7 linked regions of the Homo sapiens genome follow. The protein of the gene in region 1 purifies or fractionates together with the protein of each later gene. This does not show direct contact. Each region holds a gene or a part of one and is shown in the gene's direction. Other genes may lie near its edges. The genes, in order: LCTL, THEM6, STEAP3, EIF4ENIF1, DHRS7, SC5D and NETO2.

Region 1 (3,500 bases):
CTTTAATTGATGTGTGTAGTAAGTGAAAAGAGTGAATCCTTTTGTTTTCTAAAAAACTTGGCATAAAAACAAATTTTAAAAACTATAAAGATATGTCTTTTAACTAAGATCTGGCAGCCAGGCACAGTGGCTCACGCCTGTAATCCTAGCACTTTGGGGGGCCGAGGTGGGTGGATCACCTGAAGTCAGGACTTCGAGACCAGCCTGGCCAACCTGGTGAAACACAGTCTCTACGAAAAATACAAAACTTAGCCAGACGTGGTGGCAGGCGCCTATAATCCCAGCTACTTGGGAGGCTAGGCAGGACAATCGCTTGAACCCGGGAAGCAAAGATTGCAGTGAGCCGAGATTATGCCATTGCACTCCAGCCTGGGCAATGAGAATGAAATTCCGTCTAAAAAAAAAAAAAAGATCTGGCGACATAGCATAATGAACAAGTTTAGCCTTTTTTCTACAATTTGTTTGAGCCAGTATCACAAGCACTCATATATGACCCCTGCCCCAGCAATGTCCATGAAATCACAACATGCTTCAGAACGTCACTATGTCACTGTGATTCAAGCAATATTTTCTTTCTTTTGTTTTTTTTTTTTTTTGAGATGGAGTCCTGCTTCGTCGTCCAGGCTGGAGTGCAGTGGCATGATCTCGGCTCACTACAGCCTCCGCCTCCTGGGTTCGAGTGATTCTCCTGTCTCAGCCTCCTGAGTAGCTGGGATTACAGGCATGTGCCACCACGCCCGGCTAATTTTTGTATTTTTAGTAAAGACAGGGTTTCGCCATGTTGGCCAGGCTGGTCTCGAACTCCTGTCTTCAGGTGATCCAGCTGCCTCGGCCTCCCAAAGTGCTAGGATTACAGGCGTGAGCCACTGCGCCTGGCCTCAGGCAATATTTTCATTCACTGGGGAGAAGGTGGTCCCATCGGTGCCCTGGAAGGTTTGGGCAGGAGGTGGGAGGAAAGGGTGTTCTGATTGGAGGGCGCATGGCAAAGAGGGGGAAGCTGGGCAAGCAGTTCGGTTCAGTTAGAATTTGGGGAGCAGGTAGGAGAGGGAAGGGTTAGAGGCTGGAGAAGTGGCTTGGGGAAGACCTCGAAGGCCTCGAGTGCTGAGCTAAGATGACTGGGAACTGGGTTTATTCTGTGGGAATGGGAGCTACCAGAGTCCTCTAACTGGGCAGGAGGGCAGAGCAGGCTTTAGGGAGATGAACCTTCCAGCTTCTTCCCTGGTTGCTTTCATGAGCCTGCCCCATTAACATCCCCTCAAACCCACCAAGGAGAGCTGGACAGGTAGTCTCGATACAGTGACAAGTCTTGGGAGAATTCTGCCGTCATGGGCAGATGTCTTTGGTTGGGAAAGCCCTCTGCCGAAGAAGGCAGACTCTGTCCCAAGGCTTCTAGGAGCTTTCTGACATCTGTGTGGCCCTCAAAATCCTCATCAGAGTGTTCATCCTAGCATCAGATCTCATTTCTCCAGAACTTAGATCTAAGATGCTTCCCCATTATTAGGCCCCTTTCCCCTGGCAATTTTTCTTAAATATTCAATCCATCCAGTTCTTTCTAGGCATGAGAGTCCCAGTCTCCCTGTGCGGCCTCCCTCCTGTTTGTCTGAGGACTGTCACACAGCTTATCTCCACATTTAAACCGCTTTGCGGTTCATTCATGGGGCATCTGCTTCTCTGTGTTCACAGCTGCTCCAGGTCAAATACGGTGGGTGGCAGAATGTGAGCATGGCCAACTACTTCAGAGACTACGCCAACCTGTGCTTTGAGGCCTTTGGGGACCGTGTGAAGCACTGGATCACGTTCAGTGATCCTCGGGTAAGCAGGGCCCCTCCAGGTGGGAGAATGTGACACTCCCTGCCACTTCTTATGGATCCTGTGGTCCTGCTTGCTGTCCCTATAGGCAATGGCAGAAAAAGGCTATGAGACGGGCCACCATGCGCCGGGCCTGAAGCTCCGCGGCACCGGCCTGTACAAGGCAGCACACCACATCATTAAGGTGAGGTGGGTCCTTCTGGTGGAGGAACAGCCTCAGGGTCAGCTCAGCCTGCCCCAGGGGCTCTAGCCTGAGCTTGGTCCTCTGCCGCTCCACCTCCGAGTCAGCATACTCCATAGCACCTTCCCTTCTGTGACGATTTATGGAGGGCGTGTTCTGTCATTCAGGGCGCTGGGGGACACTATGGCTGAGCTGTTATAGCGACTCCCAAGAGCTTACAGCCTAGCCAAGGGGACATCCATGTGGAAATGCGTCAACTACAGGTCCAAGCTGTGACAGGAGGAAGAAGGGGTGTGACAGCGAGCCAGGGGTTAAAATCTTCAATGAATCAGTAGAAGTAACTGGGGTTGATCAAGGACAGCAGTAAGAGGAGTTAGAAGTGGTCATCAGAGTGTGGACTTCAAAGAACCTGGGAATTTTGAAGGAGGAAGGAAAACTAGTTTGGAAGCAGCGATAATGAGCAGGCAGACTCCACCTTACTCCCAGCTCAGAGGTATGTGGAGTGTGATGGAACAAATGGCCTCTGCTTGAAGGAGCTGCAGCGGAGGTGCTCTTAGGGCCAGCAGGCATCAGTCACACAAGAGAGTAAAGGGGCCATTCGGAGAAGATGCTGCAGGAAGGAAGGGCTACTGGAAAGCCTTGTCGCTGGGGAAGGAATTGGGTCACATTACAGGACATGTATGAGGGTATACATGATGGTAACTGGAGAACAGGGATACGAGGCATGCGGGATTGGCCCCAAAGGACACTTAGCGGAAGGTGGACAATCTGTCTAAGCTGGAAGGCAAGGAACCACTGGGTGACATTCCAGATCCCCAAACTCATATCAGGGAGAACATTTTCTCATTTTTTCTACATTTGGCTTATGATTTCTTAAACTGTGAATATTTAAAGGGCAGAGCTCTCAAGATTTTTTTTTTTTGAGACTGAGTCTTGCTCTGTCACCCAGGATGCAGTGAAGCGGCGTGATCTCGGCTCACTGCAACCTCCGCCTCCCGGGTTCAAGCCATTCTCCTGCCTCATTCTCCCAAGTAGCTGGGACTACAGGCGTGCACCACCACACCCAGCTAATTTTTGCATTTTTGATAGAGACAGGGTTTCACCATGTTGGCCAGGCTGGTCCTGAACTCCTGACTTCAGGTGATTCCCTTACCTCGGCATCCCAAAGTGCTGAGATTGTAGGCATGCGCCATAGCGCCCCGCCTCAAGATATTTTTAATATTAAACATGGAAGTCATTTTCTGGGCCTTCTTATCCATCAAAAGTAGTGAGCTGAAGAGACGCGATTATTTATTTATTTAGAGACAGATTCTCGCTCTGTCGCCCAGGCTGGAGTGCAGTGGCACGATCTCGGCTCACTGCAACCTCTGCCTCCTGGGTTCAAATGATTCTCCTGCCTCAGCTTCCTGAGTAGCTGGGATTACAGGCATACGCCACCACACCCGGCTAATTTTTTTGAATTTTTAGTAGAGACAGGGTTTCACCATGTTGGCCAGGCTGGTCTCCAACT
Region 2 (4,937 bases), on another chromosome or scaffold:
AGAATAAATCTCTTCAAACATTGCACAGTGTTTCACTCTTTTTGTTGGCAAGGGGACAACATGGGTGACCAGGAGGCTGCATTCTTTGAGCAATGGCCAACAGGCTCAACGGCTATGTCCTCAGTCCCTTCAGCCCAAAAGGCCACCCCTCCCTGGGGCAGAGGGCTCAGAGCCCAGCTACGACAAGGTGACACTTCAGGGACAAGTGTGAGCAATGCTAGGGTGTTGGGAATAGGCCCCCAAAATCTGGCCATAAACAAAATCTCTGCAGCACTGTAACATGTTCATGATGGCCATGATGCCCACGCTGGGAGGTTGTGGGTTTACCGGAATAAGGGCAAGGAACACCTGGCCCACCCAGGGCAGAAAACCGCTTAAAGGCGTTCTTAAACCACAAACAATAGCATGAGCCATCTGTGACTTAAGGACATGCCCCTGCTGCAGATAACTAGCCAAACCCACCCCTTTATTTTGGCCCATCCCTTTGTTTCCCTAAGGGGTACTTTTAATCTATAATCTGTAGAAACTGTGCTTATCACTGGCTTGCTGTGAATAAACACGTGGGTAAATCTCTGTTGGAGGCTCTCAGCTCTGAAGGCTGTGAGACGCCTGATTTCCCACTCCACACCTCTATATTTCTGTGTGTATCTTTAATTCCTCTAGCACCGCTGGGTTAGGGTCTCCAGGACCGAGCTGGTCTCGGCACTGGGGGAGCTGCCCTGATAGGTAGTGAGCTCCCTGTCCCTGGGGCTATCAAGCAGAGCCAGGTGCCGCCCCAGGGAGCTCCTTCTTTGAGGGCGGTCCAGAACCCTGGAACCCCAGCCCAGGCCCAGGCCTGAATCCGGAGCTTGTTTAACCCAGCAATTCCGGGACCCCATCCCCGGTCGCTGGCATCCGCTGTCATTCGAGAGCCTGGGGCTGACGGGGAGAGCTGGTCCGGCCTTCTCTGGGCCGCCTTTCCTCCCCAGCCTCGTCAGGAAGGGGCACAGGACAGCCGAGCTGTGCGACAGCCCGCTGGGCCTGCGCCCCAGGGCCTCCGGCGACACTTGGAGTCCGCAGCTGAGTCACTGACTCTCACCCGGGCTCCCCCGCTTCCGCCCGGCCGTGATTTGCTCCGGTTTCAAAAGGGAGGAAGGGCGGGAATGCTCGGGAAGAGCCTGGGGTTGGCAGGACCTTTAGGGGGTGGAATGAATGTCGTGAGGGCGAGTAAGGAGGTACCGGCTGGGGCTGAAAATGCGCACGGGGACCATGAGCGTGATTCGCCCTGAGCCGCTGCGAACGCCCTGCGAGCTGGGGTGGCCCTGGAGGTCCTGGAGCAGAAGCTAGGTTCCCGCAGAGTCCGCTGCAGCGCCGCTGGCGATCGGGCTGGGTCCCATTTTCCACGAAAAGTCCCGCGGCTTCGGCCGCGGAGGTGCTGGAGCCTTTGCGCTCAGACGAAGGGCCGAACGGCCAGGGCCAGGCCGCGTCTTCAGAGCCTGGCGAGGGTCTCGCGCTGCTGGGAAGGCGGAGACGCCGGGGCGCGCGTGCACCCTCGCGCCTGCAGCGCCGCGCACGGCCGCCAGGTGCCGCTGTGGCGCTCAGCGCGCCGCCCGCCCCGCCCCAGGGAACGCGAAAGTGGCGCGGGCCTGGACGGCGGGACGGACCACGTAGGGCGCTGAGAAGGTCGCGCCACGGTGGGCGGGGCTCCGGGCCCCTCCCCCTCGGCCGCCCTCGCGCTGTGGTTCGCTCCGGGCGCGCTGCGCTCGTGAGTTCCCAGGAGGCCTGGCGGGCACCGTAACCAGCGCCGCGGACACCGGCACCGGCGCCACGGACTCCGCAGGACCCCGCGCCCGCCGCCGCCGCTATGCTGGGGCTGCTGGTGGCGTTGCTGGCCCTGGGGCTCGCTGTCTTTGCGCTGCTGGACGTCTGGTACCTGGTGCGCCTTCCGTGCGCCGTGCTGCGCGCGCGCCTGCTGCAGCCGCGCGTCCGTGACCTGCTAGCTGAGCAGCGCTTCCCGGGCCGCGTGCTGCCCTCGGACTTGGACCTGCTGCTGCACATGAACAACGCGCGCTACCTGCGCGAGGCCGACTTTGCGCGCGTCGCGCACCTGACCCGCTGCGGGGTGCTCGGGGCGCTGAGGGAGTTGCGGGCGCACACGGTGCTGGCGGCCTCGTGCGCGCGCCACCGCCGCTCGCTGCGCCTGCTGGAGCCCTTCGAGGTGCGCACCCGCCTGCTGGGCTGGGACGACCGCGCGTTCTACCTGGAGGCGCGCTTTGTCAGCCTGCGGGACGGCTTCGTGTGCGCGCTGCTGCGCTTCCGGCAGCACCTGCTGGGCACCTCACCCGAGCGCGTCGTGCAGCACCTGTGCCAGCGCAGGGTGAGCGGCCCCCGCCCCTGGCCCCGGAGCACGGCCTTTGTGGGACCTCCGGGGGCTCCTCCTAGTCCCTGGCCCCCTCCCCTAGGGAAGGCCCGCTGCCTGCACCTCTTTCGGATACTGCTGGAGTCCTGCCTCTTACCGCTCCCGCCCCTCCCTCTCTACCGGGGGCATTCCTCACTGATGCCTTTGTTCGTGGGGGTTCCTAGGGTCCCCGAATCAACTCTTCATAGTCGGGCTTAGCGTGCTTCCCTCCTGCCATTTCTTAACCTGGCCCCTCACGGTTTCGTGTTCACCCCTCTCCTCTCTCCTGGTACTCTGTTCTGTGGCTGGAGTGTTGACCTCTCTGGTCCTTGGTCCTGAATATAGGTTGGAGAGGTGATCAGTTAGAAGAGGTTCCTAGGAGTTCCCGAGGACCTGAGCCCCCCTTTCACACAGCTTAGAGCTGAAGGGCTGGGTTCTGGTCACCTGGGTTTGGGGTTGAGGTATTGAGCCGAGTAGCTGAAAGCCTTCTGGCCTTTCTGCAGTTGGAGAGAGGAGGGCCATGCACCTCCCAGGGCTCGCTCCTCCCAGCAGGGCAGAACCGCCCCTGCAGCATGGCACCTGGGGCCCTGGGGACGGCCACCAGGCCGATGTGGCCAGACCAGTTGCCAGAAAAGTTGCCTGGAGCGTCCGTGCAGGAAGCCAGGGCCTGTGCACCCCTGGTGTGCCCTTAGGGCACTGCCCTCTCCGGTCTCGGACAGGTGCCTCCCGAGCAGACGAGGGTCAACGTCTCATCTCAGTCCTGATGTTACAGGAAAGGGATTCAGATCCAGACCTCAAGGGAGGGTTCTTGGATCTTGTGTAAGAAAGAACTCAGGGCGAGTCTGCAGCGCACAGTGAAAGCAAGTTTATTAAGGTAAAGCGGTGAAAGAATAGCTGGTCCGTAGACCCAGTAGCATGTTCCTGTAAGAGGAGGAACGCGTCCACCCTAGGTGCAATGCTTGTATATATGGGGAGATGTGATCTGCTACAAGGGTTTGTGATAAAGGAGTAATTTTCTTAATTACTATATTTTGCAAGAATCAATATTACTATTTTCTTTTTTTTTTTTTTTTTTTTCAGACGGATTCTCACTCTGTCGCCCAGGCTGGAGTGCAGTGGCGTGATCTCGGCTCACTGCAACCTCCGCCTTCCGGGTTCACGCCATTCTCCTGCTTCAGCCTCCCCACTAGCTGGGACTACGGCGCCAGCCACCACGCCCGGCTAATTTTTTGTATTTTTAGTAGAGACGGGGTTTCAAAATCAGGAATGCCTTTGTTCTCCAGACATCGGGATATCTGGACACTCCCAAGTCTGGGTCTCTTTAGTAAACATTATTAATTTGTTCCCTTAACTGTGTTTGAAACGCTTGTTCCCCGGTGCCGTAAAGAAATAGCACGTGAACATAAATTTAATTTCCTCAGCAAGGCCATTTTTACTTCCTGCAGAAAGGGTACACTCGCCAGCAGCTTTGCCATGAGAGTACACCGAACAAAGGAGACAGGCTCATTTATAACCTGATGTGTAACAATCGCTTTTATTTAAAGTGCGAACGGAATATTTAATCCATTTCAGCCAGGGATTTGCATCTTGATACTCTCTCGATGGCTAAGGTCTGTTTTAGATCTCTTATTTTTACAATAGACACCCTAGTTTTATTATTAGATGTAGAAGCAACCGGTGTGAGATCTAGAACTGAGGCTACTGAAGAAGGGGGAGATGGGGGAATAATGCGTATTTAAAAAATACCTAGGGGGTCTTTTCCATTTATGTCAATCCCCATACCACAGAAGCGACTGAGGGCAGGTCTAGAGTTAGTTAAGGTGGAGGTGGTGATAGAGAAGGACAGGGTTACACTGATAAGGCTGACAGTTCGAAAGGGTAGTCCTTTCAGTGAAATAGATGAGGGGTTTTAGATCTGCACAGACCTTTTTCTTGGAAGTTTAACTTTGCTCCTGAGCAGTTGAATGTGTATAGTCCCGTTTACTACAAAGTTGGCAGGCTATAGGAGCAGAACATTGGCATCTTGGCTGCAGGTCATTACGATAATGAGAGCTAGGGGTAACCATGTCCATCAGAGGGCTGGGACGTAAGCATTTGTGTGAAAAGGCTAGCTGTTGTTGATCTTTTACATTTCCGCAAGGTATGACAGAACAAGCATTCAAGGCGGTGGTCTGAGGTGAGTTAGTTACAGTAATAACAAAGGCGCTAGTAACAATAAGGAAAGGAAGCAATATGAAGGTACAGGAAAATTAAGCTTTCTTTAACTTTAACTTAGTAGGATTGGTCCTAGTACAGTCATCCATGATTCTGAGAGAAAGATGTTTTCTTGACTGGAGTGTGGTCGTTTTTTTCTTGGCTCTGCGGATGGCAGTCTCAGTGGTTAACAGCATAAAATAGGGTTCTTCCCAGGCTGGCTCAAGTTTTTTCTTTCTGTCTTTTGATGAGGACGTGGTTTTCAGGCTGGTGCTGGTGTACTGGAAATTCTAGGGGTGGTACCTAGAACTAAAAGTCTTTTAGTTCTGAGGGAAGGGAAACTGGAAGATAAATTAAGTATATCATT
Region 3 (4,379 bases), on another chromosome or scaffold:
CAAAATAGCTTAGGGTTACAAATGAAATATATTATATGGAAACACAGCGAAAATATTTTTTAAAAAAGACTACAGTAGCATTAGGCATGCTTCTTTATTAGCACATTAAATGACAAGCTCTAGTGGCAGATCTAATGTCTACCATAATTTTATTTTTACTTTTATTATTATTATTATTATTATTATTATTATTATTATTATTATTTTGAGATAGTCTTGCTCTGTCACCCAAACTGGAGTTCAGTGGTGCGATCACTTCAGTCTTCAACTCCTGGGCTCAAGCGATCCTCCTGCCTCAATGTCCTGAGTAGCTGGGACGACAGGCGTGTGCCACTGTGCCTGGCTAATTTTTTTTTTATTTTTTTAGAGATGGGACCTCCCTGTGTGGCCCAGGCTGGTCTTGAACTCCTGACCTCAAGCGATTCTCCTGCCTTGACCTCCTGAAGTGCTAAGATTACAGGTGTGAGCCACTGCACCTGGCTAGCATGGTTTTAAATTTGTGCTCAATTTAAATGGTATTAGGATAAATTATTTACAGGTAAATTTATGATATGATCTTGGTCAGTATTAATGAAAAATTATGTTGCCTACCTTCATACTTAAAGGAAATAGCAAATTTTAGTTAGAAGTTGGTGACAATTAATATATAATAATTTTTCCATCCAAGTTTACTGTAGACCGATGGCCCGAGTTCAGGGTTTCCTCCACATCCACTCATATCTTGGGCTCAGCAAAGAAGATCACAGGGCACCCACTCTATCTTAGGGGCCCATTCACTTGTCTCTCAGTCCTGCCCTCAGAGATCAAGGTTTGGTGTTCATTCATTCATTCATTCAGCAAACACTGAGCACTGCCTCCGTGCCAGGCTATGATACACAGTGAGGTCCAAGGTCAGATGAGATGAGGTCCTGCCCTCAAGCTGTTCACCATGCTTCAGGGAGAGCATAAGAAGAACTGCTCCAAGATGCAAAATGTAGACAAGCATAGGGACATGCTCACCCTTCCTGGTCATCAAACACCCAGCGATGGTGAGGTTGGGGTTAGATGGTCACTCCTGGCTAGTGACACTGTCCATTGCCTAATCCTTTTGAAAAGAAGTATGGCACTGCATCACATTGGTCATGGAAATTCCAGAGTTCCCTTTCCCAGCACTCTCACTCTGCCAGTTTTTCCCGAGGAAATCATTCAGCAGGAGGGACAAAGGGTGGAGGGCAGAAGTCATCCCTGCTCTTCCTGAGTCTGTGCTCTCCCCAGGGAAGGGGCTGTGTTGTGTTCAGCTTGTTCCCCTGGTGCTGACACGTGGTAGCACTCGGTGAACACCTGCTGGGTGAATGTCTGACTGCCGTGTAGTTACGATGTATAAGAGGAGGGAGGTGGCAGAAGGGGCAGTCCAGGAGCCCTCCACTGACCAGGTTCCTGACTTCTCTTGCAGCCACCAAAATGCCAGAAGAGATGGACAAGCCACTGATCAGCCTCCACCTGGTGGACAGCGATAGTAGCCTTGCCAAGGTCCCCGATGAGGCCCCCAAAGTGGGCATCCTGGGTAGCGGGGACTTTGCCCGCTCCCTGGCCACACGCCTGGTGGGCTCTGGCTTCAAAGTGGTGGTGGGGAGCCGCAACCCCAAACGCACAGCCAGGCTGTTTCCCTCAGCGGCCCAAGTGACTTTCCAAGAGGAGGCAGTGAGCTCCCCGGAGGTCATCTTTGTGGCTGTGTTCCGGGAGCACTACTCTTCACTGTGCAGTCTCAGTGACCAGCTGGCGGGCAAGATCCTGGTGGATGTGAGCAACCCTACAGAGCAAGAGCACCTTCAGCATCGTGAGTCCAATGCTGAGTACCTGGCCTCCCTCTTCCCCACTTGCACAGTGGTCAAGGCCTTCAATGTCATCTCTGCCTGGACCCTGCAGGCTGGCCCAAGGGATGGTAACAGGCAGGTAGGTTCTGGGGGAATAATACCCATCGTAACAATAAATATAAATGGCTAATTTTCATCGAGTGCTGCCAGCATGCTCTTTTTGATATGTTATCATAACTAATCCTGCATCACTGCAAAATTCCATTTTACAGAACAGGAAATTGTGGCTCAAAGACATTAATGATCTTACTGAAAATTCCATAGCTGGTAAGTTGGGATTTGAACCCAGTTCCTATGGATCTGAAACCCATGTTCTTTCTGCTATGGTAACAGGGTTTCCTAGAGGGCAAGGAGGAAAAGGTTGATGGCTTTTTGCTATTTGGAGCCAAGAAGGAGAGAGACTTGGCTTTTAGAATTGGACTCAGAAGGAGGAAAGTAACACACTTATGTACCCGGCCCTGAGGAAGGCAGGCATGTCTCAAATTTTATCGTATTTATTCTAAGGGCTTCCAAGAACTGATTTCTCAGAAAAGTCAACAGCAGGTTTTTCTGGGGCTAGATAATGGCTCCACGGAACAGCTAGAGCTGCATACGTTTCTTGCCACGAGGAGCTCTTACCAAGACAAGGTGGTTTTTAATGCCACCTTGGTTTTTAATGCATTTTCTTGGCGAAAGAATGCCAGACTCCATGTGTGAGAACTTCCACCAGTGAGTCGAGCCCAGGTGCCAGGCTCTGTAGGACAGTTTAAAGGTGCCCAGCCATACCTGACTACAGCACCTTAAATGCAGGCTGCATCATGGGACTCCCAGGTATGGACCAGGAGGAACAGTGGAGAGTGTTGGATGCAGGGCCTGGAGGGAACGGAGCAAGCAAGCTGGCTGGAAAAGACTTGGAGGAGGGCTTTGACCTGGGCCCACCTCATGCTGTCAGGCTCAGGGAGCAGGGAGTGCATTCCAGTCTGAGGGAACAATCTGAAAAGGCACAGAGATAAGAAACAATGCTCCTAGACCTCAGTTTTCTCACCTGAAAAATGAAGACTATAGTACCTACCTGCGGGCTCATGGCAAGGCTGAGAGATCATATATGTAAAGCTCAGCATAGAGTAGGTGTTCAGTCTGTGTTTGGAGACTAAACTGACCAATGCAGTGTCAACAAGGCCCACGGGGTGCTTGGGGATCTGAGGACTGCAATGTGCCTGCAGGGGGACCTCGTGGGTCAGAGCAGCGGGCTTCAAGGCGGAGAGGGCAGGCTGGAGCTGGCTTGTAGAAGGCCTTATGTGCTGGCTGAGGGCTCTACTGAGCCGAGGGACATCATCAAGGGGGGTGATTCTGAACTGAGGGATGGAGCTGCAGCCACAGCTGCCCATTCTGCACCATACGCAAAACTCTTTTGCTGAGCGGCTCCCAGGGCAGGCCACGGCCTTGGAGACAGCCATGTCGGGGGCCCATGGGGACTACCTGGATGAGCATTTTGCTTGTGGTTGCTGATGTCCACGAGCTGGGCAAGATGCTTACTGTTTGCAGCTTCCCTCCTTGAGTAGTTGGCCTGGCTTGGCAGGTGGGCCAGAGGCTGGGAGGCCTGGGCAGCAGAGAAAAGACCCCTAGCCTGGGAGCTAGAACCCCATTGGCTCCCACCTGTACCATTGACTGGCAGCTCACTTGAACAAGTCCCTGCCCCTCTGGCCCTCGGTTTCCTCAGCTGCTCAGTGAGGCCCTGCCCACTCCTGTGGCCTGTGACGCCGTCTGACTGCCCCACTTTTCTCCCGCAGGTGCCCATCTGCGGTGACCAGCCAGAAGCCAAGCGTGCTGTCTCGGAGATGGCGCTCGCCATGGGCTTCATGCCCGTGGACATGGGATCCCTGGCGTCAGCCTGGGAGGTGGAGGCCATGCCCCTGCGCCTCCTCCCGGCCTGGAAGGTGCCCACCCTGCTGGCCCTGGGGCTCTTCGTCTGCTTCTATGCCTACAACTTCGTCCGGGACGTTCTGCAGCCCTATGTGCAGGAAAGCCAGAACAAGTTCTTCAAGCTGCCCGTGTCCGTGGTCAACACCACACTGCCGTGCGTGGCCTACGTGCTGCTGTCACTCGTGTACTTGCCCGGCGTGCTGGCGGCTGCCCTGCAGCTGCGGCGCGGCACCAAGTACCAGCGCTTCCCCGACTGGCTGGACCACTGGCTACAGCACCGCAAGCAGATCGGGCTGCTCAGCTTCTTCTGCGCCGCCCTGCACGCCCTCTACAGCTTCTGCTTGCCGCTGCGCCGCGCCCACCGCTACGACCTGGTCAACCTGGCAGTCAAGCAGGTACCCACCCCATGCCCTTCCTCCCTCTGGCAACTCAGCACATGCTTGTCCAGCACCTCCCCCCCCCACCAACCAGGTGCAGCCGATACCCACGGGTGCAGCCTTACCAGGTGCCAACTGCAGATTCTGTTCCAATGGGGCAGCACCCACATCCTCCTGCCCAAGATTTTGAGTATCAGTGAACAAAGCAGATGAAAATTCCTGCCCCCATGGGTACAGCCCAGTTGGG
Region 4 (3,867 bases), on another chromosome or scaffold:
GCTAATTATTGCCGCTCCCTGCCCAGTGAAGCACAGGCAGCCCAAGAATGAAGGCCCTCCCTAGCGCACCTCACTGGTGTAGTCTGCAGTAAACTATACACCAGCTCTGGATAACCCTACAACTCCCAAGTTCCTGTACCTATTCTGTCTACCTGAACTGTTGTTCTCTAGCTTCTTCTTGATCGCACCCAATGGAATGCAGCTTCTTCCCCAGGAAGCATCCCTGCAGTGCCTTGTTATTTCTTCTAACCCCTCCATTTTCCCATTGTACTTTGTTGGTGCCTAATATCTACATGCCTTGGTTTGCTCTAGGTGATTGTCTCCCCCGCTAGACTGAGAGCTCTTACAAGACTGGGACTGTGTTTCATTTTCCTTTTGTCTTCCCTCAGAGCTTAGCATGTGCTTTTGTGTATGTTAGGCCTAAATGCTTGGGAAATTGAATTGGATAAGGGAAAGGGGATGTTAAAACTTCTAGGCTGGTCTTGAGTATTATATGGTTTTAAGACTTGAAGTTAAGCAGATTGGGGTTCATGCTGATAATTGGTTTGTTCACAGGCAACAGCGAGTGACCAAGTCACCAGCACCCGTGCATCGAGGGAATTCCTCTTCCCCTGCCCCTGCTGCCTCCATCACAAGCATGGTCAGTGACCTTTAGTAACTGTGAAGGACTTTAAGGCTTCTCCCTGTTTGGTTGTGCATGGATTGTACCACTGTGTGCCCTAAATGTCCTTGAGTTCCTTCCACGGAAATAACTGACCTAGTAGTTTTTCATAACTGTCTATTAGGTCTTTCCCTTTTAGGACACAGTCTAAGTCTTAGGATTTTAATGAAGCCCCTATATTGGGGAAAATATGTTCCAGCAGAGATGATCATGGGCCAGGGCACACGAGGTGATATAGTATGTTCAAAGAAATGAACCAGGTGTGGGGAGACAGGAGGACGATAGTGAGAGACAGGAGGTGAAGTGGACAGAGGTGACTGGGTCAGACAGTGGGGAGTCTATTGAAACTTGCAGGGGAGTTCACAAATTCGGATTCACCACTTCAGGTCTCAGTGATATAAACTAAGGCTGGAACAGAAGGGTTTGCTTATATGCAGTGAGAAGTCTAGTTTTATAACTATCATTACTTTAAAAAATGTTTCATTCCAGCTGGGCGTGGTGGCTCACGCCTGTAATCCCAGGACTTTCAGAGGCCGAGGTAGGTAGATTGTTTGAGTTCAGGAGTTCAAGACCAGACTGGGCAACCTAGTGAGACCCTGTCTCTACCCCTAATACAAAAAATTAGTCGGGCATGGTGGTGCACATCTGTGGTCCCAGCTATACTCGGGAGGCCGAGGTGGGAGGATCACTTGAGTCCAGGAGGCAGAGGTTGCAGTGAGCCAAGATCGTGCCACTGCCCTCCCTAGTGAGTCCCCGTCTCAAAAAAAAAAAAAAAAAAGGTTCATTCCCCACAAATCTTTATCATCTAATCAAAGCCGATAGAGAAGAAGGAAAAAAAAAAATAACTTTGCTGCGTGCTTCAGAACCCCACGTGGGTCTTTGCACCGGTGACCTTGAAGGCAGCAGGGTTTGGAAAGAACTTTTTTGTTTATAAGTCAAGCCCTGTCTCCTGCCATCAAAGATGTGGGGTTGTTTGGTGAGAAAAGGCAAATGCATAATAAAATCACCAAGGTAGAAATAGTGAAGAGGTAAGAAATGACTCCAAATGATTAATCCTGATGGCTGAGGAGACTATTGAGATAAATTTGACTTTTCTGGTAGCCAAGTTAAGGGAAATATTAGGAGTATGGAGTAATTCTGGTTTTGATGTTATCTTTGAAATGTCAAGGAAGGTCTGTTGCTCCAAGTTATATTTCTGGCCATGTTCTTTCTCTTGCCAGCCTAATCCCAGGCTGGGAAATCTGTGACGCAGAGGCTGCATAGGCATGTCCCCATTATCACACAGTTGTAAGCAAGGGATAATGTACTTGGGACACTGCCTATTTGCCCCATTCTGTTTTTCCTCCAGCAGCTACAGAACAGAATACTACAGTTGGCCTATGCTACCAATGTGGGGACTCTTTGTTGAGTATCTTGACAAGTTAATCCTGGCTTAGTATTAGAGAACGGCACTTAGAGAATGTGCTAATGCCAATTGTTTTTCTCTGCAGCTTTCTCCTTCCTTTACCCCTACCTCAGTGATTCGTAAGATGTACGAGAGCAAAGAGAAAAGCAAGGAGGAGCCAGCATCTGGAAAAGCAGCTCTTGGTGACAGTAAAGAGGATACTCAGAAGGCCAGTGAAGGTACTGCAGAGCTGTTAAGGGCACTGCTCAAGAAAGTATGTGATGGAGAAAACATGGGCCTGAGCGCTGACCAGCCTGATATTCTATACAAAGCCCTGGGCAAGACCACTAGCTTCTCTGGACTATGGTTCTGTGTCAGTGAGAAGGTTCTGTGTGACAGTGAGAAGAATTGGGCCAGCTCACAATTGCTTGGTTGCTTGAAATTTGACCAATCTAAGAGTGCTACTACCAGACGGGTAGAATGAGTGTTAGTTTAGAATCCTTAGTTAGGCTTCAAAGTTAATAATTAGTATACTTATTTGGCAAATTAATATAATTCAGCGAGTTTTACTTCTGAAAGATTATGTCCAGCCTGTGGAGACTTAAGTGTCCAACATAGAAAATATGTGAGAGGCTTTTAGGAGTTGCACAGTAGGGATTGTGAAGGACGTGGTAACATGCGGATTCCAAATTAGGGTTTACAGAGGTGTTAAAAGTACAGATCTGAGAGATTTTTGCCTGTGTTTGAGAAGGCTTGGGGTGGGTGGTGGGGAGGAAATCCTGTTGGTACTATTAAGACAGTTTGGGTTCTTTGACCAGACTCTAATTGCCATTTAGATTTTCTGTTGTGATAGATTTGCATAATCTAGGCCACAGCCATTTGTGCAGAGAAGGGTGCCCAACAATTCATCTTCTGGTCCTGTTTATGAAGCAAACGATGGTTCCTACCGTGTAGTCCTCTAAACTTGTTAAGGGTATCAGATAAGAATTGTGACCTTAAGAAATGAGATTTATTAGACCAGTGGGAGGCCACAAGTGTTTGGGAGAGGTTTGCCAAAATATTTTTTGTTTGGTTCCTCACAGAAAACCTCCTGTCATCCAGCTCTGTACCCAGTGCCGATCGAGACTCTTCTCCCACTACAAATTCCAAACTGTCAGCATTACAGAGGTCTTCGTGTTCCACCCCACTGTCCCAGGCCAACCGTTACACCAAAGAACAAGATTATCGACCTAAAGCAACTGGGAGAAAAACACCCACCTTGGCATCCCCAGTTCCTACAACACCTTTTCTCCGCCCTGTCCACCAAGTTCCCCTTGTCCCCCATGTCCCTATGGTTAGGCCTGCTCACCAGCTTCACCCAGGGTTGGTACAGAGGATGCTGGCCCAGGGAGTACATCCACAGCATCTTCCAAGTTTGCTCCAAACTGGTGAGTTTCCAGCCTGACTTGGGTGTCGTCAGTTTGTGGGCCTAGGGGACAATTGTTGGCACTGATGAAGTGCTATAATGTGGGAGATTTCCATCCCTAGAAAGATGTTACTAGATTCTCCCATCTAACTGGCAGGCAGTGGGCCCAATCCAGTCAATCCCCTAGTCCTTTAAAAGATTAGGAACCTAGCTTGAAGATTCTTTTTTTTTTTTTTTTTTTTTTTCCTTTTTGTAGAGACAGAAGTCTCACTCTGTCTGCCTGGCTGGAGTGCAGTGGCGCAATCTCAGCTCACTGCAACCTCTGCCTCCTGAGTTCAAGCAATTCTCCTGCCTCAGCCTCCCGAGTAGCTGGGACTACAGGTGCACGCCGCCACACCCGGATAATTTATTTTGTAT
Region 5 (4,379 bases), on another chromosome or scaffold:
AGAAATGGATGAATTTTTAATGGTGGCTTAAGACTGGATATAAAGAAATTATAAGGCCAATAGGAAAAGAATGATTAAGGAAGACACAAAATTTATATTTAAAGCTGTTGAAGTCAGTTTAAGTAGAATGTTTCACTGTTGGAATCATGAGATGCAATAGCTACATGGTCATCATGGTTTCATGAAAATTTGAAGCTTTGGTTCTTTAGGACATCTTTTTTCTGCTGCAAAGTGCAGACAATTGCAGACAGTGATGAAGCGGAATGCTATACTGATGATTTCCTCATATTTAGTAACAGGCATCAGTCACTTCCTGTGGAGCAGTTGGGCAAGCCTCAGGCAGGCAGATGAGGGAGGGCGGCCACCCATCTGTTTGGCACCACGTGTCTCATAAGATATGCTGGATGCTTTCAGTAAACACAGATGAGCTGTCTGGCCTGCCCTCCAAGACTCATTATTTTATTACTGGATTTGATCCTATGATAAAATGTGGCAGGTTGAGACTGTAGTTACCAGGAAGCTCTTTTTGAAGAGCACATTTCCTTCTCAGATTCTCAGTAAACTACAGAATTAACTTGTTTATCATTGAAAAGTTTACACACAATACTAGATGTGATTTCAAACAAGGAGAGGTTTTAGTGTTTGATATATTGGCTTGCTTGGTGTCCTCTCTCCTCTTTTGCTACAGAGAGGCAGAAGGTTAAAGTTATGGGAGTTTTCCATTCAATTAGCAAGCTTTTTTTTTTTTTTTGGGTTCATCTCTGAGTCTGGCACTGTATTGGTCTCTGATCATAAACCCTCATAGCCCCTCTGTTTGTTGGGGTCAGCATTTCAGAGCTGATAACTGTTTAACATTTTTGGATCATATACAATGTACTGTGGGTTAGCTGTTTAGGCTTTTCAATAGATAACCCAGCCTTATAACAATGTAGTCTTGGAACATTTCCTAATTTAGGAAGAGATGAGAGGCAGTAGATTTCTGTTTACTCCCCATTGGTTTAGAAATGGTCAGTATCTTTTTAAGTCTAGAAGGTCTAGTCTGTTTTACACAAGTCATTCAGTAGGCAATCATATTACATTTTTAATTAGCCACATACCCTCTTATTACCCAAAAAGATAAATGTTTGCTAAAATGAATTAATACTGTTAAAATAGAAATATAAATGGAAAAAGTTGAATTCATTCTTTCTGATACTTTCTGTGAAGTACTAATCCCATCTTCCTCACCTTTGCCCCAAAAATTTGCACTTTAGACTACTTTGGGGAATAAATAGAAACCTGACCTCAGTGATTCTCAGTGGAGGACATATACCCCTTTTGGAGTGGGGAGAGGAGGACTGGTATGAAGAGCATATATCAGAATCTATAGGGATAGTTCTTTTTACCTATCCAGTGCATGCCTACCATAAAAATCATTGATGGGAAGACCCCTCACTATCAAAGGGGGTGAACCATTTATACCTGGAAAGAGCTGAGAATGTCTGTTCTAGATTGCCTCCAGTCTACTGTTAAAAGTGCCTTATACACTATTCACAATAGCAAAGACTTGGAACCAACTCAAATGTCCATCAATGATGGACTGGATTAAGAAAATGTGGCACATATACACCATGGAATACTATGCATCCATAAAAAAGGATGAGTTCATGTCCTTTGTAGGGGCATGGATGAACCTAGAAACCATCATTCTCAGCAAACTATTGCAAGGACAAAAAACCAAACACTGCATGTTCTCACTCATAGGTGGGAATTGAACAATGAGAACACTTGGACACAGGAAGGGGAACATCACACAGTGGGGCCTGTCATGGGGTGGGGGGAGTGGGGACGGATAGCATTAGGAGATATGCCTAATGTAAATGACCAGTTAATGGGTGCAGCACACCAACGTGGCACATGTATACATATGTAACAAACCTGCATGTTGTGCACATGTACCCTAGAACTTAAAATATAATAATAAAAAAAAGTGCCTAATAAGCTTGCATGATTACACTACCTGTCCTTTACTCACACATTTTAGAACATATTTTGATAAATCATGAGATATGTGTCTGTATTTATTTGCCTTTTTCCTTTTTTTTTTTTTTTGTCTGTTAGGGTTTTTTTAATGGCCTTCGAACAGAACTTGCCACATACCCAGGTATAATAGTTTCTAACATTTGCCCAGGACCTGTGCAATCAAATATTGTGGAGAATTCCCTAGCTGGAGAAGTCACAAAGGTAAAAATTTCTAGTTGGGAATAATTTGAATGTTTACTAGTTATATATTGGCATTATATATTGGTGTTGTATCACTGTATATCATAGTTTTTGCCTTAGAAGTGCTTTTATGTGAATTATTCACAAAACTCCTGCCATTATGAAAATTGTTTATGGAATTTCATTTGCTAAATGCATTGTCTTAATAGTTTGATTTTTATTACAAAAGTGATAATTGTCATTAAGCACATTAGGGTGATGCAATTCTAATTAAAAGCAAAGAATCTTCATCTTTTAGTTAGCCTGCACTATATTATCTAGTAAGCATATGGTTTCTGTTAGGCTTTTTGAAATATTACAAATAGTTTATAAACTCCCATTAGTACCTATGGAGACTCCTAAGGGGCATGAAGCTCCACTAAAGGAACCACTCAACTAGACGGCATTTGAGTCCTTTCTAGCTTAAAGTTATGTGAAATCGCTTGGATAAATTCACTTAATTTTTAACTTTTCTTAGACTATAGGCAATAATGGAGACCAGTCCCACAAGATGACAACCAGTCGTTGTGTGCGGCTGATGTTAATCAGCATGGCCAATGATTTGAAAGAAGTTTGGATCTCAGAACAACCTTTCTTGTTAGTAACATATTTGTGGCAATACATGCCAACCTGGGCCTGGTGGATAACCAACAAGATGGGGAAGAAAAGGATTGAGAACTTTAAGAGTGGTGTGGTAAGACCAATTTCTAAGTTTCTTAATAGTATGTACCAATCTTGCAGGAAGGTACAGAATTTTCCAGTGTTTAAAAAACTTTCTGGCTGGGTGCAGTGGCTCATGTCTGTAATCCCAGCACTTTGGGAGGCCAAGGCAGATCACTTGAGGCCAGGAGTTCAAGACCAACCTGGCCAACATAGTGAAACCCCATCTCTACTAAAAATACAAAAAGTAGCTGGGCATGGTGGTGCATGCCTGTAATCCCAGCTACTCGGGAGGCTGAGGCATGAGAATTGCTTGAACCGAGGAGGCGGAGGTTGCAGTGAGCCAGGATGGTGCCACTGCACTCCAGCCCGGGTGATAGAGCGAGACTCTATTTCAAAATCAAAAAACCTTTCTAACCCTCCACCAATCTCATGATATAAAGAAAAATAAATAAAAAATATTTTATCCCCATGCATATATTTTGGTTTACTATAAATTATTACTAGTCTTGGAGAGAGAAGTTTCTTACAAGGTAAAATCAAATCAAAGATTGCCATGTTTTTCTTCTATACATATTGTTTGACCAGTGTGTGTGTCAAAATGCTCTTTCCCTACTGTTTCTCCCCACCAACTCCTACCCATCCTACCAGTCTCAACTCCCATGTCACCTCCTTGGAATGGTACCTGGCCTTCCCTCCCACTTCTCCCCAGGACCAAGTGCACCTCAGCCCCTATGCTTTCCTGTCAAAGCACTTACTGTGTTGTTAAAACAGATGCATGCAGTTTTACCTCATTCCCGAAGTACTCAGCACATCTAAGATGTGCCTATTCCCCTGTCTAAGGAAATATGCTGATTATCATTCTTTCAGCACTCATTCTTTATAGCAATTAGTCAGGGAATACTATTAACCATTTCTGAGAAATTGTGACCCTCAAAAGAATTTAATTTATAGACAGTACAGGAAATGTAATGAAGTAAACCAAAAATTATAGATGATTATGCAGCAAAAGATTATTGCTGAGGATGGTTTTTACTGTTAGCCTTTGATATACTTTGTTACCACCTTCTTTTAGAAATTAATCAATGGGGATTGACAGATAAAAAAAGAATTATAAAACAAGATCATACTATATATACCTGCAAAAATTTAAGCAATCCACTAATTGTTAGACATTTAATTTATTCCAACTCTTTGCAGGACAGTGAAAATGAATTAGGGGGTAAAAAGTTACAAACACAACAAAATGCTTAAGAGACATAAAAGGTTATCAGACTGGGTCATGACACACTAAAATGTCCAGAGTGTGAAAAATCAAAAAGGAGCTTTTCGTTTTCTACCAAGTAGTAATGTGGAACAGTTTGCTTTGGGCCAGATCCCTTATGAGTGTTTTGGTATTGTTGGGACTTGGTAGTGTGGGTAGAAGCTCTAAAGGTAGAGTTTCATCAAAGAGTATACCTGAGTTTTAAATATGGAGG
Region 6 (4,379 bases), on another chromosome or scaffold:
AGTATTTAGTGGAAAGTATATTTTAAGCAGGGAGATAATGTGTAAAGATGGGTTTTAGGAAGATTAATATGAAGGAAGTGATGATTCCCAGAGATTTAAATAATAAAGATGTCTTAGGAGTATCCTGTCTCACAAATATCTTTATAGTTTAATTAAGAAGTACTTTAGGTAGAACATTTCAAGTACTTATGCGAGGGAAATGAGGAAATGACCAGATTCCAAGAAGCCAAGAGAGATTAGTTTATAATATACTGAATTAGCCAGAACAGATCATTTATAATGTTTGAGTCTAGGATCCCATTTTGCACTCAGATGGACATGTGAAAAGTGAACTCTAATCCCAGGAGCTGAGTTTTGATTCTTCTGTTTCCCGTTTTCTTTTCTAGGATTGTTTGAACTTGTCGTTAGTATAATATCTTTCCTCTTTTTCACTGACATGTTCATCTACTGGATTCACAGAGGCCTTCATCATAGACTGGTATATAAGGTAAAGTCATTTGTGGTGAAAAGAGAAAAAAGGTTACACATTTCAGCAATGTATGATTATAAATTCTGTTCTCTATTTCCAAGAATTTCCTCTACCCATATTAAATGTCTAAGTAGCCATAATCATAACAGGTACAGGGTGCATTTTGTTCATATTCTTCTTTATGGGTCTAAGGGGCTGTCTTAAAATTCGTCTGTTCCGGTAACAGGTACACATGGACTTACAGAGGGAACAATAGACATTAGAGACTCCAGAAGGTGGGAGGATGGGAGAGGAGTGAGGGATGAGACGCTCCCTATTGGGTACAATGTGCACTCTTCAGGTGCTAGGTACACTAAAAGCCAGACTTCACCACTGTGCAGTATATCCATGGAACACCACTGCACTTGTACTCATAAATCCATATAAAATTATACTGTTTTAGGGCGAAGAAGGACATTTTATAGAATAAATAATTTTGCTGATCTCTACAGGATTTGTTAGGTTGTTTCCAACATGAGTGTGAGAAGCTAAGTTGAATGTTGCACGGGGTAAAGTTTGCAGTGCTAATTGTGTCCTTTTCTCCTGCAGCGCCTACATAAACCTCACCATATTTGGAAGATTCCTACTCCATTTGCAAGTCATGCTTTTCACCCTATTGATGGCTTTCTTCAGAGTCTACCTTACCATATATACCCTTTTATCTTTCCATTACACAAGGTGGTTTATTTAAGTCTGTACATCTTGGTTAATATCTGGACAATTTCCATTCATGACGGTGATTTTCGTGTCCCCCAAATCTTACAGCCATTTATTAATGGCTCAGCTCATCATACAGACCACCATATGTTCTTTGACTATAATTATGGACAATATTTCACTTTGTGGGATAGGATTGGCGGCTCATTCAAAAATCCTTCATCCTTTGAGGGGAAGGGACCGCTCAGTTATGTGAAGGAGATGACAGAGGGAAAGCGCAGCAGCCATTCAGGAAATGGCTGTAAGAATGAAAAATTATTCAATGGAGAGTTTACAAAGACTGAATAGATTATTGCCCAGTTATTCTTAAGTAAGGACAAAGAAGGAAATATCATCGTATTTCTTTTTTTTAATAAGGAAAAAATAATATCCATACAGTCAAGATACATAGTAAATGGTATCATTTGGAAATCAGCATCGTGGGCACTGCTGAGGAATGATCCTAGTGGTAGGTCAGAAGAAGATGCTGTGAACACCAGGACTTTAATCTTATGCTTAAAATGCCAGATGTTGTTCGGGGGACAACTTGTATCTTTCTAGCAGCAGATCTGTAGTTTGTATAGCCTCAACAACAATTTTAAATAAGATGGAGAATAAATTATTGAGGGGACTAGGCTATATGCATTTGCCTTCATCCACCCATGTTTATTAAGAATCATTGTGCTTAATAATACCAAGACTAAGCACCATAACCAAGAAATACTAATGTAAAGATTGTTTCTTGTTTCAGGAATGGTTAATTCTTCAACGTTGGTATGATAATGATAACTTGTTTTGACTTGAATAAAGTACTACATCAGTGTGGAAAAAAATTCTGATACATTAGCAGCTATGTAAATGACCTAATTGATAGCAGGTGTAATAAGACTATCGTCTTCCTACACATAGGAGGCTCATTCTCTGGACACACTATCACCTATTACATTTTACTGATTAACAAATAAATTGGAATTTAAAAATATCGATATCACCATGATTTAATCCAGATCTGGGATTATGTAGCTAAACATTGTGATGATTATTATTTAAAACCATTATTTAATAAGAGTAAAAATATGTGAATCTGGATATATTTAAAAAAAGAAATTTGATGCCCAGATAATATATTAGGCACTACTGATTTTTTAGTTAAATTGATGCACTACACTTTTGATGTTTGAAGTTACAAACCTGTAATTTTTTTGTAAAGGAAATAATTGCCAAATACCTAGGCCCATTGCTGACGATTAGTTCTAAAATCTTATTCCTCCTCTTCTCCCCTCACTTTTCCCTACTTCCTCTGCAAAAAGATTTAACAAATACATTCATAAGGAAATGTGTGTTGTAACAAATATATTGCAAAAACATAGTTTGTAAAGGCATTCTATAAGCTATTTATGTAAAATCAATAAAAGTTGATCATAATTAAACTGTATCAGTTGAGTATTATAGCAGCACAAAGTATTCTTTGTACAGATTTTGTGCCAATTTGAAGCCACAGAAATGATGTGGATTGTTAATTGTGTTTTAGAACATCCCCGGACACTCAGTGTCACAGGGGGAAAGAAGTGGGTACCACATTCTGTTTATATTTCACATTTTAACTAGATTTGAGTGTTTTTAGCAAGAAATCAGTCTTAAAATCTAATGTCTGGGATCCAGAAGAAAATGTCTTTAATCTGTGAGTTATTGTCACAATGTCATCTTATTTAAATGTACCAATTAGCATTTTGTAATAGGCAAATGTCATTTAGTGCTTTTCACCAATCCCACTCACCCCCGGTGCTCCGCCTTGCCTAAGAAAAAGAAATTAAGGAGAAGTAAACTTTATTTCCTAATATAATGTCAGCTGATATTTATTGAGCTTTTCCTCTTTGCCCAGAGACTAGGACCCAAAGAAGTTAAGTAACTATTCCCAGGTTTATTTCTCTCTCATATGATGTCCCATGTGGATGTTTGTGGTCAGTGGACAGCTTTCCACCTAGTCTTTCTGCGACCCAGGCTCCTTCCTCTTGGGGCTCTGCCTTTCTCTCAGTCCATAGAGCCCTCTTTGTTGAAAGAGCACATAGGAAAAGAAGGAAAAGTCTGTGTGGAAAATGTTTCTGGGTCAGGCCTGGAAGTGGTGCATATCTCTTCCGCCCATGTTCCTTTGGACAGAACTCCGTCACATGGCCCACCTAGAGAGATTTTGGGAAATGTGTCCAGCTGTGTGCCTGGGAGGAAGGGGGCACCATTTTCTTGAGCAGCTAGACAGTTTGCCGTATTTGTGGTGTTCTCCTCTTGTTGATGTTGAAATGGTGAATGAGCCATAAAGTATTTCAGGTTATCCACACACTAATCATCTCAGTGTCTTTAATTCTTAACTCCAATATGAATGTTTAAAGCTTCCTCTAGATTCTTATTCCTATATAACTAATAGAGAAGAAAGGACAGCTTCCTATGGGGAAGACAGAGGCTTCCTCATAGATGTTAGGAATAATCAAACTTGCCCCTGCCCTTTCACCCGTCTCAAATTCTGGTCTTTTAAAGCAGCGTTATGTTAAGTAGTCCTAACATTGTAATATACAGTACTGCCACATTCTCCTACTTTCTATTAGAGGAAGTCAGAGAATATTTATGGAAGTGAGGACCCAAATTACCTTCTACAGATGACTTTTATAGTTACAGGACAGAAAGTGAAAATCAAGGTTACGTTTTCTACTTTTGTGGTAGAAATTGAGAAGTGGGTGGATATGGTTCGAGAAGACCTTTCAGAAACACAGAGACTGAGTCTTTGTCTTCCATGCTGTCTCTGCAGTACTGAGTGAATTTCCTTATACCCTTGTATCATGTTTTCCTCCCATCTTCTAGAAGCTGGGGACAGATTTGGAAGAGAATTACACAAGTTCAGTTTTTTGATACATGGATTTTACAGTGCATGCAGGTTATTTATGTAGAGAGGAGGTCTGGGAGAAAGATGGAAACTAGGGAGATGACTGAGAACAAAGATATTTGGGATTAACACAGATAGAAGAAAAGTTTGAAACCATGAGATTGTCACAGCATGAAAAAAGATATTCAAAGACACTAACCAACTTGAGGGGTGCAGTGGTCTGAATGTGTCCTCCAAAATTCAAATGTGGAAATGTATTTGCCAGTGAGATAGTATGTAGAGGTGGGGCCTTGAGGAAGTGAT
Region 7 (5,102 bases), on another chromosome or scaffold:
ACACTTGCCCCACGTTCCAGGCTCATCCTGCTCCCTGCCTGCTGAGCTCTTCTTCTGCCTCCTCTCCTCTCGCCACCCCAAGCATTTCCATGGTTTGTGTGTCACCTCCTTCAGGAAGTCTTCTCTGATGACATGACACGCAGATTTTTCCTTCAGTCAACAACTTCACATTAAGAAACTATTATGTTAATTTGAGAGCCCCTTCCTCTCAAATTTTTTTGGTTCACTGTTGTCTGTAACCTATACTTAATATTGTCTTCTTACTCTCCTATTCTACTAATATGCTACATCATTATTATTATTTGAGACGGAGTCTCGCTGTTGCCCAAGCTGGAGTGCAGTTCAAGCGATTCTCCTGCCTCAGCCTCCCTAGTAGCTGGGACTACAGGCGCGTGCCACCACGCCCAGCTAATTTTTGTATTTTTAGTAGAGATGGGGTTTCACCATGTCGGCCAGGCTGGTCTTAAACCTCTGACCTCGGGTGACCCGCCTGCCTCAGCCTCCCAAAGTTCTGGGATTACATGCGTGAGCCACCTTTTCATATCCGTGGGAAAAAGTTCTTAAATGTTTTATTTCCTAATTGGTTCTCGTGTGCGATCTTAACTGTAGTAGGTGGTTACCTTTAGGAACCCAAACTTACCCATCTTTTATGCCCCCATTCACAGCACATGGCAAAGGGTGAAACACCTCGATATTAATTGGTGTTAAGTATGTTTTTCCTTTGTAAATCTCATGAATTATTTATGCTTTTGTACCTTTCTTGAAGGAATACAAAGTGAGAGAGAAGAGCTTAACACCTGAAAAATGTTTCAGTTGCCTGACATTGTCTTTAGCTACAATTGGTTAGACAAACGTTTACAGAGTTCCTACTACACGCAGAGACAGGCATAAATATTCTATTATGGTAAGGCCTTGATCACGGTTGTTATCTCCAGCACCAATCATTGTCTTCTGCACATAATTAACACCCAATACGTATGTGTGGAGTGAAAAAAATGAATGCAGTCGGCCTGCCTGCAAGCAGCTGATATTTTAATGGTGTGAGGGTGAGGGAGATATAAAGGATGAACAAATAAATAAATGAGGAAGGTCATATCAGTGTGATAACCGCTGTGGAGAAAATAAAGCAGGATCATGAATACCACCAACAGCCAGGCAGTTGTTGGCAGACCTGGAGACTCCCATCAGCTGGCGAAGCTGCCCAGCGTAGTGGTTAGCTGCTAGGAGGGCAGCCCCGGGGGAGGTGCACAGCCCTGCCGCTCATTCGCTACGCGGCTCTGGACGAAGGGCTTCACCTCTCTGGCCTCGACTTTCCAATCCCCTAAAACCTACTTCATGAGGGGGAGTCTGAGGAGTTGGTACTAAAGTGCCTGTCAACCTGGCGGGCGCTAGGGAAACGCCGGCAGCGCCGCGGGTCGGGAACTCACCGGCGCGAAGGGCACGGAGAGCCTCGGGCTCCCTCTGCCGATGTCCGCGCTTCCCTGCCCAGGGTCGAGCAAGGCTGAGCTGGGCAAAGTTTTGACCTTGAATGGAGGTCTGGGGGACTAGGGACCGGCGCCCCTCTCTGTCTGCTAGGGCTGGCGGAGACCCGGCAGGCCGGCGAGGGTGCGGGGCCGAGGTGGGCGGCGCTTCCCGGGCGCCTCCGTCAGACGGGAGGCATCGAGGGCTCGGCCAGCTGCCCCGGGCGCCCTGCGCGGCGGCTGGGCACGGGCCGGTCACTGCCCCGGCGCCGGCCTCTCGGACGAGGCCGCCGCGCAGCCACGGCGAGAGGCACCCTCACTACCCCCGCGCCCAGCCGGCTCCCAGCCCTAACGGCAGCCGGCGGGGAGCGACGCCGTCCCACGGCGCGAGGCCGCGGCGGGCGCGCGAGGCGCGGCGCGGGGCGGGGCGGGGCGGGCACATGCGCACAGGCGGCGCAGCCGGCACGCGGCGCTCGCGCTCCCTCCTTAAATGAGCCTGGGCGCCCCGCGCCCGCCACTTCAGTGGATCCCGCGCCGGGGCCGCGGGCGGAGCTGCCTGCCGGTCCCGCGCCGCGCGTCCGCACTCCTCGGCCCTCGGGCGGTCGATGGGACGGGGCGCCGCGGAGCAGGAGGCGGCGCCCGTCGGGGTGCTCGGGCCGCGCGGGAGCCCACTGTGGGGCTCGGGCATGGCGGGCCGCAGGACCTGAGCTCTCCTCAGGGGAGCGGGGAGGCAGCTGCTGGCCGGCGATGGGGACGGAGTGGGGCCGTCGCCGCCGCGCCGAGCCGTGAGCGCCGAGCCACCGCCGCCGCTACCTCAGCCCTTCGCGAAGCGCCGGGCAGCTCGGGAACATGGCCCTGGAGCGGCTCTGCTCGGTCCTCAAAGGTAAGGACCGGGGCTGGGGCCACGGACGGCGCCCCCTGCGGGCCGAGGCTGGCGCGCCGCCCTGCCCGCGCCTCTGCGTCCCTTACCCGCGCCCGGGACCCGACGCGCCTCTTTGTCTGGCGGGGCTCGCGGCTACTCGGAGCGGACCGCGGGGCGCGAGCCCTGCCCGGCTCCGCCGGCTCTCCGGGCGCGCCGCTTCCGACCCCTGCGAGTCCGGCCGACGTTCGCGGGGCGCGTGTGGGAAGAGGGATCGGGTCGGGAAGGCGGCCAGGAGGCCCCTGGGCCCAGCAGGGCCCTCCGGGCTGCGCCCTCGCGCCGCTTCCGTAGAATTCCGCGCATCCCTTTGCAAAGTTGTGAGATTCCTGTCGTGGAGCGGAGGCCGCTCTTTCTCCAGATGTGATGGCAAAAAGTAATTCCACGAGAACAATAAAAGCCGCGGCCGTGACGTCGTGCAGTGGTTTTCGAATAGCCCCGCGGCGCCTGCACCTCGCGGCGGGGAACGGGGCCTGCTGGGCCAGCCGGGTCCCACCTGCTGCGGCCACGGAGGCTGCGGCACCACTGCGGGCTCCGGGGGCGGCGCGCGGGCGCCGCGGACCCGGCTTGTCCCGGCCCCCGGGGAGCGCTGCTGCTCGGGTGCTTCCCGGGACGCGGCGCTCCTCGCGCTCCGCCAGAGGTCTCAGAATTCCCCGCCGCTGGTGTTCGGTTCTTACTAATTTGTTGTACTGGGAATTAAAACAGTTGGCTTGTCCAGAGCACAGAGCTCTAAAACCTACTCCACCGGCTTTGCATTTCCCAGGAGGTGGTAATTTAGATGAAAATTTATATACATAGATAATTAGGATTGGGATACAAAGTTGCTCCTGAAACTCGGACTGAATAAATCGTCTTTTCAATTTCCAGAGGGAAAACAGCACCACCACTCAGTAAAGGACTTCCCTTTTTCCCCCTGCTGATTTAAATTGAAAGCTGACGTGTTTGTAATGTCGTAACATGTTCTTTTTTTAAAAATTTCGAGGGTACGGCTGAGGCATTATTAACGGTGTTATGTATAACTCAGCACTGTATCTTAATATTTGTAGAGTGACTTTTTTCCTGCTCCCTAACAGCACTTTTTTCAAATTTGTTTTATTAGAAAGTTCAGTGTAATTTTGCTTTTGATTTTAATTGGACACATTGTCTACTCTCCACATATTCCTAAATTCGTAATTGAGATTTCAGTAATTCGAAACGTTTAACTACCCCACTGTAAACGTATCTACAGCTTGTACTAAGGTAACCTAGGACTTTCTAGCTGATGAATATTTCACAAACCGTAAATCCGTAGTGATTTCTTTATTACAATTGAAAACAACTCTGAAATTCATCCTGTGGCTTTCATATCTCTAACTCCTAATTTTTACAGTCATTCCTGGGAAAGGAATGTTTTTACTCTTTCGTGATAAACCGTATGCACACTAGGATTTCTGATCGTGTTGCTTATCTGAATTTTCTGCCGTTGTCGGATTGCGCCCTCACTACGGTAAGGTTGTCAGCATGCTACTGACCGTGCATCCGAGAGCACCCCCGGATGAAATCGCGTAGATCTGTCACACCGCTTTACCTGCAGAACTTGATAAAATCGAGCTGGATAGGGTAGGGGCTGGTAGCGCCTCCTCCAATGGTGAAGGGATTTGCAGCGTTTCTGCCTTTGCCTTTCCCGTGGGTGCACACTGCCCTCTCTGGCCATCGTGGTGAAGCGTTGAGTGTTGTACCTTTCAGGAAAGGATTCTGGTGATGGCAGAGCTACGGTGAAAACAATATAGTGTCTGGCTTTTCTTTTTTCAGTGTTAGCCTACACTATTTTTACATGCTGGAGTATTTTTAAAGCTCAAGCTGAATTATTATTGTTGTTGCTGCTATTGGTGGCGGCTTCCTAGAGAGAAAGCAAGTTATTTTTAAAGTCGTCTGTGGTATCAACTTGTAAATGCCAATAACTGGTCTGGAAAGATTCAATAAATTGTTAACAGTAGTTGATTCTAATACGGAAATCTAGGGGATTAAAAGACAGGAATGAAGGGAAGACTGGTTTCACTGCACACCCATTTGTATCACTTGATTTTGTTTTTGTTTTTTTTTTTTACCAAACGCATGTATAATTTATTTAAAAATCAATATTTTAATTTTAAAAAGTTGCCTTTAAAAAGATACTGGCCTTTCCCATTACAAACTACTCATTGTGTGCCCCAAGGCATGAAGAAGTTTTCCTTTTATCCTATAAAGTGAATTGCTTTAACATCAAAGAGGTTCTTATCTGAAGCAGCTATTTAACATTTACATAATTGTGGATATTACCCACAGAAGCCTTGTTTGAAATATTATGGTCAGTTTCTACTAAAATAAATCAGCCATAATGAGTGTGTGAGATTTTAAGTAGAAAGTAATTTTAGTTCTTTAAGATGCCACTGATTATTCTTGTTTTACTTTCAGCCATTAAGACAAAAGAATAACCTTACTAGGCTTTTAAACCTTTCCTATGTTGTTGAAACTAAAAAATTCACTTTTAGCTGTGATCACTCTAGGCCTCACAGAATTCGAGTTAATCTTCTGTCAAGGTTAACTAAGCATTATAGTCTCATGAAAATATTACATGAGGATTATAAATCCATTTTTTGTTCTTATTCTGCACACTTGCTTCAGGAGAATCTGTTCGACTCAGCAATATTTCAAGCTGTAGAAACTGGTTAAATTTGTAATGTAACAGCAAAAATATTCCTTGGCAC

What was found.
Region 2: the proteins of LCTL (region 1) and THEM6 purify together in Homo sapiens (affinity purification with mass spectrometry; one large-scale study listed by BioGRID and IntAct). This does not show direct contact.
Region 3: the proteins of LCTL (region 1) and STEAP3 purify together in Homo sapiens (affinity purification with mass spectrometry; one large-scale study listed by BioGRID and IntAct). This does not show direct contact.
Region 4: the proteins of LCTL (region 1) and EIF4ENIF1 fractionate together in Homo sapiens (co-fractionation; one large-scale study listed by IntAct). This does not show direct contact.
Region 5: the proteins of LCTL (region 1) and DHRS7 purify together in Homo sapiens (affinity purification with mass spectrometry; one large-scale study listed by BioGRID and IntAct). This does not show direct contact.
Region 6: the proteins of LCTL (region 1) and SC5D purify together in Homo sapiens (affinity purification with mass spectrometry; one large-scale study listed by BioGRID and IntAct). This does not show direct contact.
Region 7: the proteins of LCTL (region 1) and NETO2 purify together in Homo sapiens (affinity purification with mass spectrometry; one large-scale study listed by BioGRID and IntAct). This does not show direct contact.

Annotation. Positions count from the first base shown.
Region 1 is NC_000015.10:66,559,499-66,562,998, reverse strand, and holds part of LCTL (lactase-like protein isoform 1 precursor), read left to right. Parts: intron 1-1,683; coding exon 1,684-1,812; intron 1,813-1,897; coding exon 1,898-1,993; intron 1,994-3,500. UniProt on the Homo sapiens protein: Plays a role in formation of the lens suture in the eye, which is important for normal optical properties of the lens.
Region 2 is NC_000008.11:142,725,504-142,730,440, forward strand, and holds the start of THEM6 (protein THEM6), read left to right. Parts: upstream 1-1,719; 5' UTR 1,720-1,843; coding exon 1,844-2,356; intron 2,357-3,457; exon of another isoform or gene 3,458-3,987; intron 3,988-4,937.
Region 3 is NC_000002.12:119,244,057-119,248,435, forward strand, and holds part of STEAP3 (metalloreductase STEAP3), read left to right. Parts: intron 1-365; exon of another isoform or gene 366-1,432; coding exon 1,433-1,932; exon of another isoform or gene 1,933-2,825; intron 2,826-3,622; coding exon 3,623-4,150; intron 4,151-4,257; exon of another isoform or gene 4,258-4,379.
Region 4 is NC_000022.11:31,441,379-31,445,245, reverse strand, and holds part of EIF4ENIF1 (eukaryotic translation initiation factor 4E transporter), read left to right. Parts: intron 1-555; coding exon 556-640; intron 641-2,151; coding exon 2,152-2,284; intron 2,285-3,127; coding exon 3,128-3,472; intron 3,473-3,867. UniProt on the Homo sapiens protein: EIF4E-binding protein that regulates translation and stability of mRNAs in processing bodies (P-bodies). Plays a key role in P-bodies to coordinate the storage of translationally inactive mRNAs in the cytoplasm and prevent their degradation.
Region 5 is NC_000014.9:60,147,909-60,152,287, reverse strand, and holds part of DHRS7 (dehydrogenase/reductase SDR family member 7 isoform 1 precursor), read left to right. Parts: intron 1-2,100; coding exon 2,101-2,223; intron 2,224-2,719; coding exon 2,720-2,935; intron 2,936-4,066; exon of another isoform or gene 4,067-4,379. UniProt on the Homo sapiens protein: NADPH-dependent oxidoreductase which catalyzes the reduction of a variety of compounds bearing carbonyl groups including steroids, retinoids and xenobiotics.
Region 6 is NC_000011.10:121,306,000-121,310,378, forward strand, and holds part of SC5D (lathosterol oxidase), read left to right. Parts: intron 1-386; coding exon 387-487; intron 488-1,057; coding exon 1,058-1,513; 3' UTR 1,514-4,379. UniProt on the Homo sapiens protein: Catalyzes the penultimate step of the biosynthesis of cholesterol, the dehydrogenation of lathosterol into 7-dehydrocholesterol (7-DHC).
Region 7 is NC_000016.10:47,140,820-47,145,921, reverse strand, and holds the start of NETO2 (neuropilin and tolloid-like protein 2 isoform 1 precursor), read left to right. Parts: upstream 1-1,976; 5' UTR 1,977-2,309; coding exon 2,310-2,343; intron 2,344-5,102. UniProt on the Homo sapiens protein: Accessory subunit of neuronal kainate-sensitive glutamate receptors, GRIK2 and GRIK3.